Linked DNA regions of Homo sapiens. The protein of the gene in region 2 interacts with the protein of the main gene of each other region in a biochemical or structural test. Each region holds a gene or a part of one and is shown on either strand. Other genes may lie near its edges.

Evidence for each region. Proteins that work in one complex are often made in the same cells at the same time.
Region 1: the proteins of PRKAR2A (region 2) and AKAP6 interact in a test that uses a peptide from one of them, tested with the Homo sapiens proteins (one study listed by BioGRID).

Annotation. Positions count from the first base shown.
Region 1 is NC_000014.9:32,542,298-32,545,797, forward strand, and holds part of AKAP6 (A-kinase anchor protein 6), read left to right. Parts: intron 1-2,932; coding exon 2,933-3,500. UniProt on the Homo sapiens protein: Binds to type II regulatory subunits of protein kinase A and anchors/targets them to the nuclear membrane or sarcoplasmic reticulum. May act as an adapter for assembling multiprotein complexes.
Region 2 is NC_000003.12:48,837,875-48,841,374, reverse strand, and holds part of PRKAR2A (cAMP-dependent protein kinase type II-alpha regulatory subunit), read left to right. Parts: intron 1-3,500. UniProt on the Homo sapiens protein: Regulatory subunit of the cAMP-dependent protein kinases involved in cAMP signaling in cells. Type II regulatory chains mediate membrane association by binding to anchoring proteins, including the MAP2 kinase.

The DNA of each region.
Region 1 (3,500 bases), on a different chromosome or scaffold from region 2:
CTAAAATGTTGTCATTCATTCATTCATTCATTCAACATATGTGCATTCTGTGTGCAGATCACTATGCTATGTGCTACGAGTACCCTGGTAAGACAACCATTTTCTGTGTGATTTATACTGTCATAGTACTTACAAACTAGTGGGAAAAACAAATTGATCAGATAATCACAATAGTATTTATTTATAAATTGAGATCAATGCTTAAAGAGAAAGCAGGGCTTACAATAAAATATTCTGACTTACATGTGGATCTGGAATCTTGAAAAAGTGAAACTTAAGCTGAAATCTGAGTGATAAGGAAGAGTCAACTAGTTAAGGGGTATAGGTTGGAAGCTTTCCAGGCAGGGCAAGCAGCATGTGCCAAGGCCTTGAGGAAGGAGGGAACATGGTATTTTCAGAAAGTGAAAGCAGGATACTGTGGCCGCGTGTGGCCAGTGAGGGGAGAATAGCATAAGAAAGGCCTCTTTGGGCCTGGCCTTGAAAGGGTTTTGGTTGTGTTTTAAAAATACTTATCTATGACATCGTTGATTTCTGTCTTCAGTCATATACTTGGAAGATCTTCAAATATTAAAGCAATATATCTTTGCATTGAAGTGTGTCATTTTTTGTTTTTATTATTTTTAATTGACACATGACTGCACATATTTATAGGGTACAGTGTAATATTTTGATACATGCACACAATGCAATGATCAAATCAGGGAAATTAACATACCTGTCACTTCAAACATTTATTGTGTCTTCATGTTGGGAACATTCAAAATCCACTCTTCTAGCTATTTGAAAATGTAGAATAAATTGCTTTTAATTACAGTCATCTGACCCTGCTATAGAAACCAGAACTTATTCCTCCTATCTAGCTGTAATTTTGTATCCATTAACCAGCCTCTAGCTATTCCCACCCGCTACCTTTCCCAACCTCTAGTAACTACTATTCTGCTTTTGGCTTCTCTGAGTTCAACTTTTTTAGCTTCCACATATGAGTGAGAACATGTGGTATTTGTCTTTCTGTGCCTTGCTTATTTCACTTAACATAATGTCCTTCAAGCTCATACATGTTGTCACAAATGACAGGATTTCCTTCTTTTTGAAGGCAAAATAGTATTCCATTGTGGATATATGCCACATTTTCTTTATCCATTCACCTGCTGATGGACACTGAGGTTGATTCCATATCTTGGCTATCATGAATAGTGCTGTAATAAACATGGGAGTTCAGATATCTCTTTGACATGCTGATTTCCTTTTCTTTGGATATATACCTATTAGTGGGATTGGTAGTTCAATTTTTAGCCTTTTTGAGGAAAAGTTTGGATTTTTAACTTAACAACAACAGGATGCTTCTAAAGGACTTTAAACAAAGAAGTAACAGATTTGCAATTTGTGTAGGTTATTCTGGTGGCAGTGTGGAAAACGAATTGGAGGTGGGGGCATGCCAGTTTAAAGTAATATCTAATGGGCAGAATACAGACTTTGGGGACAGCCTCTATCCAGGGCCGGTGTCATCTTTTGGTCCAAGCTACTCTTATGTAAGAAAGGGACAATAGTACAGACGGCAGAAGAAAATTTTAAGGATTAAATGAAAAAGTAATTGTAGTAATCAACCATCATCATTTATAGATGAGGACTCTGAGGCTTAGAAAAGTTAAATAAGGCTTTTTGTCTGTTTATCTAGATGTTATGGAATGAGAGTGAGTGGAGTAGGAGATAAAGGCAGGGTGAAGGTCTGAAGGGAGAGAACATTCCAAAAACAAAAACAAACAAATGAGCAGTAAAACCAGATATAAGATCCTGGAGAAGCCAGATCTGGGAAAACCTGGTTGAAAGGATCACAGGGTCCAGCAGCCACATGGAATCCAGCTTCAATTGGCTCACCACAGTTCTTCCTCCAGAAAAAAAGGAGATCTGGGGATGTAACAACCCTTCACTTTTCAGTTTTCTTTTTTCATTTCCTAAGGGGGCTAGGTTAGATCAGTCTGTTATTTAGCCAGTAGGCAAAATAGGATAGTTCCCAGGGCTCTTCTACCCCAAACAAATCATCAGTGAAAATCTTCCCATTTGTTGTATGAAATCAGAAACTGCATTAGTAATGGGACAAAAGCCTTAATTACAGAATTAAAGATTTAACAAATTAAAAATAGTTAATCGTAATGCTGTTTTTTTAGTGTGAGGGAGTTTTAAATCAAATCAGCCTATCCAGAATTATGAATAGTAAGAAAGATGGGCACTTAACAGCTCGCAAACACCAGTGGGAGCAGGACTTGGGGAGAAAAACATGCAGAGGGAGGAGCTGATGCTATCTCTAATGATAAAGTTTGGACATTCATTAATTTTCTCCTTCAAAAGGGTGGGGCCAAACAGAAACTGGTCTTGAACTATTATGTATTTGCAAATTCAGTAGTTTACCTTCCTTTGATTCATCAATATATGTTTAACACAACTGGCTTATTATAATTAATTATTCTACTTAAAAATATTTATTGAGCATCTACCATGAGTTAGCCACTGTGGTAGGTACTGGAATGATAGCAAAAAGCAAAACAGACATTCGTGGAGATTTTACTTTTACATTATTTTGATCCCAGAAATTGTATTACTTAAGGCTTTGTTTATGAAATTCTTATTAAATGAATAATATATTATTTTTAAGTTGAAAATTAAGTCAAGAATGGATTTTTTTGGCTTGCTCTTGACATTTCTGTTAAGGCTGTATACTCCAGATTAGTGAAAAATCTTCAGGTGTTTAAGAACAAGATACTATATAAAGCAATGTGGTAATTGATTAATATCCCTTTGTGTATGTCAAACCACAAGCAATAGGGACCAATACATTTGACCTTTATAGTGCCCTGTACTGCAATTTCATTTACATAGCAGCTGATGTTGTAATTGATGTTGCATTTACTGAAACCATTGCCATTGTCTGTTTCAGGGCCGGCTTGATTCTCTAACAGAAGTGGATGACTCAGGACAATTAACCATCAAATGTTCTCAAAATTACTTGTCTCTGGATTGTGGCATTACTGCATTCGAACTGTCTGACTACAGTCCAAGTGAGGATTTGCTCAGTGGGCTAGGTGACATGACCTCTAGCCAAGTCAAAACCAAACCCTTTGACTCTTGGAGCTACAGTGAGATGGAAAAGGAGTTTCCTGAGCTTATCCGAAGTGTTGGTTTACTTACGGTAGCTGCTGACTCTATCTCTACCAATGGCAGTGAAGCAGTTACTGAGGAGGTATCTCAAGTATCTCTCTCAGTAGACGACAAAGGTGGATGTGAGGAAGACAATGCTTCTGCAGTCGAAGAGCAACCAGGCTTAACACTGGGGGTGTCATCATCTTCAGGAGAAGCTCTGACAAATGCTGCTCAACCCTCCTCTGAGACTGTGCAGCAAGAATCCAGTTCCTCCTCCCATCATGATGCAAAGAATCAGCAGCCTGTTCCTTGTGAAAATGCAACCCCCAAACGAACCATCAGAGATTGCTTTAATTATAACGAGG
Region 2 (3,500 bases):
ATGGTGTTTCACCATATTGACCAGGCTGGTCTCAAACTCCTGACCTTGTGATCTGCCTGCCTCAGCCTCCCAAAGTGCTGGGATTACAGGTGTGAGCCACCGTTCCCGGCCTACCCAAAATAATTTTAAGCAGGGAGTTAAACAGATAGTTATACTCCAGTGCTCATTGCAGCATTATTTACAGTAGTCAAAAGGTGAAAACATGGCACGTGCCTGTAATCCCAGCACTGGGGGGCCGAGGCGGGCGGATCACCTGAGGTCAGGAGTTTGAGACCAGCCTGACTAATATGGTAAAACCCCATCTCTACTAAATTAAAAAAAAAAAATTAGCTGGGTGTGGTGGTGTGCGCCTGTAATCCCAGCTACTCGGGAGGCTGAGGCAGGAGAATCTTTTGAACCCAGGAGGTGGAGGTTTCAGTGAGCGGAGATCACGCCATTGCACTCCAGCCTGGGCAACAAGAGCGAAACTGTCTCAAAAAAAAAAAAAAAAAAAAAGGTGGGCCAGGCCCTGTGGCTCATGCCTGTAATCCCAGCACTTTGGGAGGCCGAGGTGGGCGGATCACGAGGTCAGGAGATTGAGACCATCCTGGCTAACACAGTGAAATTCCGTCTCTACTAAAAATACAAAATATAAGCCGGGCGTGGTGGCGGGTGCCTGTAGTCCCAGCTACTCGGGAGGCTGAGGCAGGAGAATGGCGTGAACCCAGGAGGCAGAGCTTGCAGTGAGCCGAGATTGTGCCACTGCACTCCAGCCTGGGCGAGAGAGTGAGACTCCGTCTCAAAAAAAAAAAAAAAAAAAAAAAAAAAGGTGAAAACAAACCAGGTATCCAGGTATACATCCATAAATGAATGGATAAACAAAATATGGTATATATATACATAAGACCGAGTGTTGCTCTGTCTCCCAGGCTGGAGTGCAGTGGCACGATCCTGCTCACTGCAACCTCCACCTCCTGGGTTCAAGCAGTTCACTTGCCTCAGCCTCCCGAGTAGCTGGGATTACAGGCGTGTGCCACCATGCCTGGCTAGTTTTTGTATTTTTAGTAGAGACGGGGTTTCACCATGTTAGCCAGGCTGGTCTCAAACTCCCAACCTCAGGTGATCCACCCGTCCCGCCTCGACTTCCCAAAGTGATGGGATTACAGGCATGAGCCACCATACCTGACCATCCTTAAGAAGGAATGAAATTCTTATTCATGTTACAGCATTGAAAATATTATCCTAAATGAAATGAGCCAGATACAAAAGGACAAATAATGTATGATTCCACTTACAGAAGGTAACCAGAGTAGCTAAATTCATAGGGACAGAAAGTAGAAGAGAGCTAACCGAGGGCTTGGGGGAAGGTGTAATAGGGTGTTATTGTTTAATAGGTACAGAGTTTCAGTTTGGGATAATGAAAAAGTTCTGAAGTTGGATAATGGTGATGGTTGCACAATGTATGTACTTAATGACACTGAATTGTACACTTAAAATGGTGAAGTGGCACATTTTATGTACATCTTACCACAATTTAAAAAGGAAGAAAAAATGAATTGTATACCCAATGACATTAGAATAAGTCTACACTACTTAAATTAGAAATAGGATATGTTTCAACTCCAGAGCCAATAAAAAAAAGAACAAGAAGTATCATATGTAATAACTGTATATAGCAAGGAAGCTTTGCTTAGTGAGGTCCTTGTGACTAACCACCAATTCAGTTTATAAAATTGTATCCTATTGGAAAGAGTCAAAAAACTTACTAGCTGTTATTTTAATAACAGCTTTAATATCAAACAGGACATAACTTCAAAGTATAAAGTATTATAATGCGTATTTAATGTTGAGAGATGCCTGAAGAGTATAAACTTATTAATAAATTACTGTAGCTGCATACAAACAATAAATCGACATTCAGAATTGTTTCACTTCTGTAATTACCATAAAGCATTTATACTTGCCGGTCTCTCAGCATTTTTTTTTTTTTTTTTTAGGTAACAGCTTTATAGAGATATGCTTCACATACAAGTCAACTATTTAGAATGTATAATTGGTTTTTCATATCTGTGTGCAGCCGTCACCATAATAATTTTTTTTTTTTTTTTAGACGGAATTTTGCTCTTGTTGTCCAGGCTGGAATGCAATGATGTGATCTTGGCTCACTGCAACCTCTGCCTCCCGGGTTGAAGCAATTCTCCTGCCCCAGCCTCCCGAGTAGCCAGGATTACAGGCGCGTGTCACCACGCCCGGCTAATGTTTGTGTTTTTAGTAGAGATGGGGTTTCATCATGTTGGCCAGGCTGGTCTTGAACTCCTGACCTCAGGTGATCTGTCTGCCTCGGCCTCCCAAAGTGTTGGGATTACAGGCATGAGCCACTGCACCTGACCAACCATAACAATTTTTTTTTTTGAGACGGAGTCTTGCTCTGTCGCCCAGGCTGGAGTGCAGTGGCGCGATCTCGGCTGACTGCAAGCTCCACCTCCCAGGTTCGTGCCATTCTTCTGCCTCAGCCTCCCGAGTAGCTGGGACTACAGGCGCCCACCACCATGCCTAGCTAATTTTTTGTATTTTTTTTTTTAGTAGAGACAGGGTTTCACCGTGTTAGCCGGGATGGTCTCGATCTCCTGACCTCGTGATCCGCCTGCCTCGGCCTCCCAAAGTGCTGAGATTACAGGCATGAGCCATCGCGCCTGGCGCCATAACAATTTTTAGAACATTTTTCCTCACTCCAAAAAAAGTCCCATATACTGTTTTGTTTTTCTTTTCTTTTTTCTTTTTTTTTTTTAAAGATGGAGTCTCTCTCTGTTGCTCAGGCTGGAGTGCAGTGGTGAGATCTCAGCTCACTACAATCTCTCCCTCCTGGGTTCAAGCAATTCTTGTGCCTCAGTCTCCTAAGTAGCTGGGATTACCGGCATGTGCCACCATGCCCAGCTAATTTTTGTATTTTTAGTAGAGATGGGGTTTCACCATGATGGCCAGGCTGGTCTCGAACTCCCAACCTCAGGTGATCTGTCCACCACGGCCTCCCAAAGTGCTGGGATTACAGGTGTGAGCCACTGCGCCCGGTCACCATACACTTTAGTCATCACCTCACCAACACCCTCATTCCCCTCATCCCTAGGCATCCTCTAATCTACTTTTGTCTCTACCATTTGCCTATCCTGCATATTTCATATAAATGGAATCATATAATATGTGTTGTTGTTGTTTTTTTTTGAGCGGAGTCTTGCTCTGTCGCCCAGGCTGGAGTGCAGTGGCGTGATCTCAGCTCACTGCAAGCTCCGCCTCCTGGGTTCACGCCATTCTCCTGCCTCAGCCTCCCGAGTAGCTGGGACTACAGGCGCCCGCCACCACACCCGGCTAATTTTTTGTATTTTTAGTGGAGATGGGGTTTCCCTGTGTTAGCCAGGATGGTCTCGATCTCCTGACCTTGTGATCCGCCTGCCTCAGCCTCCCAAAGTGCTGGGATTCCAGGCGTTAGCCACCGTGCCCAGCCAATATGTGGTCTTTTGCCGCTG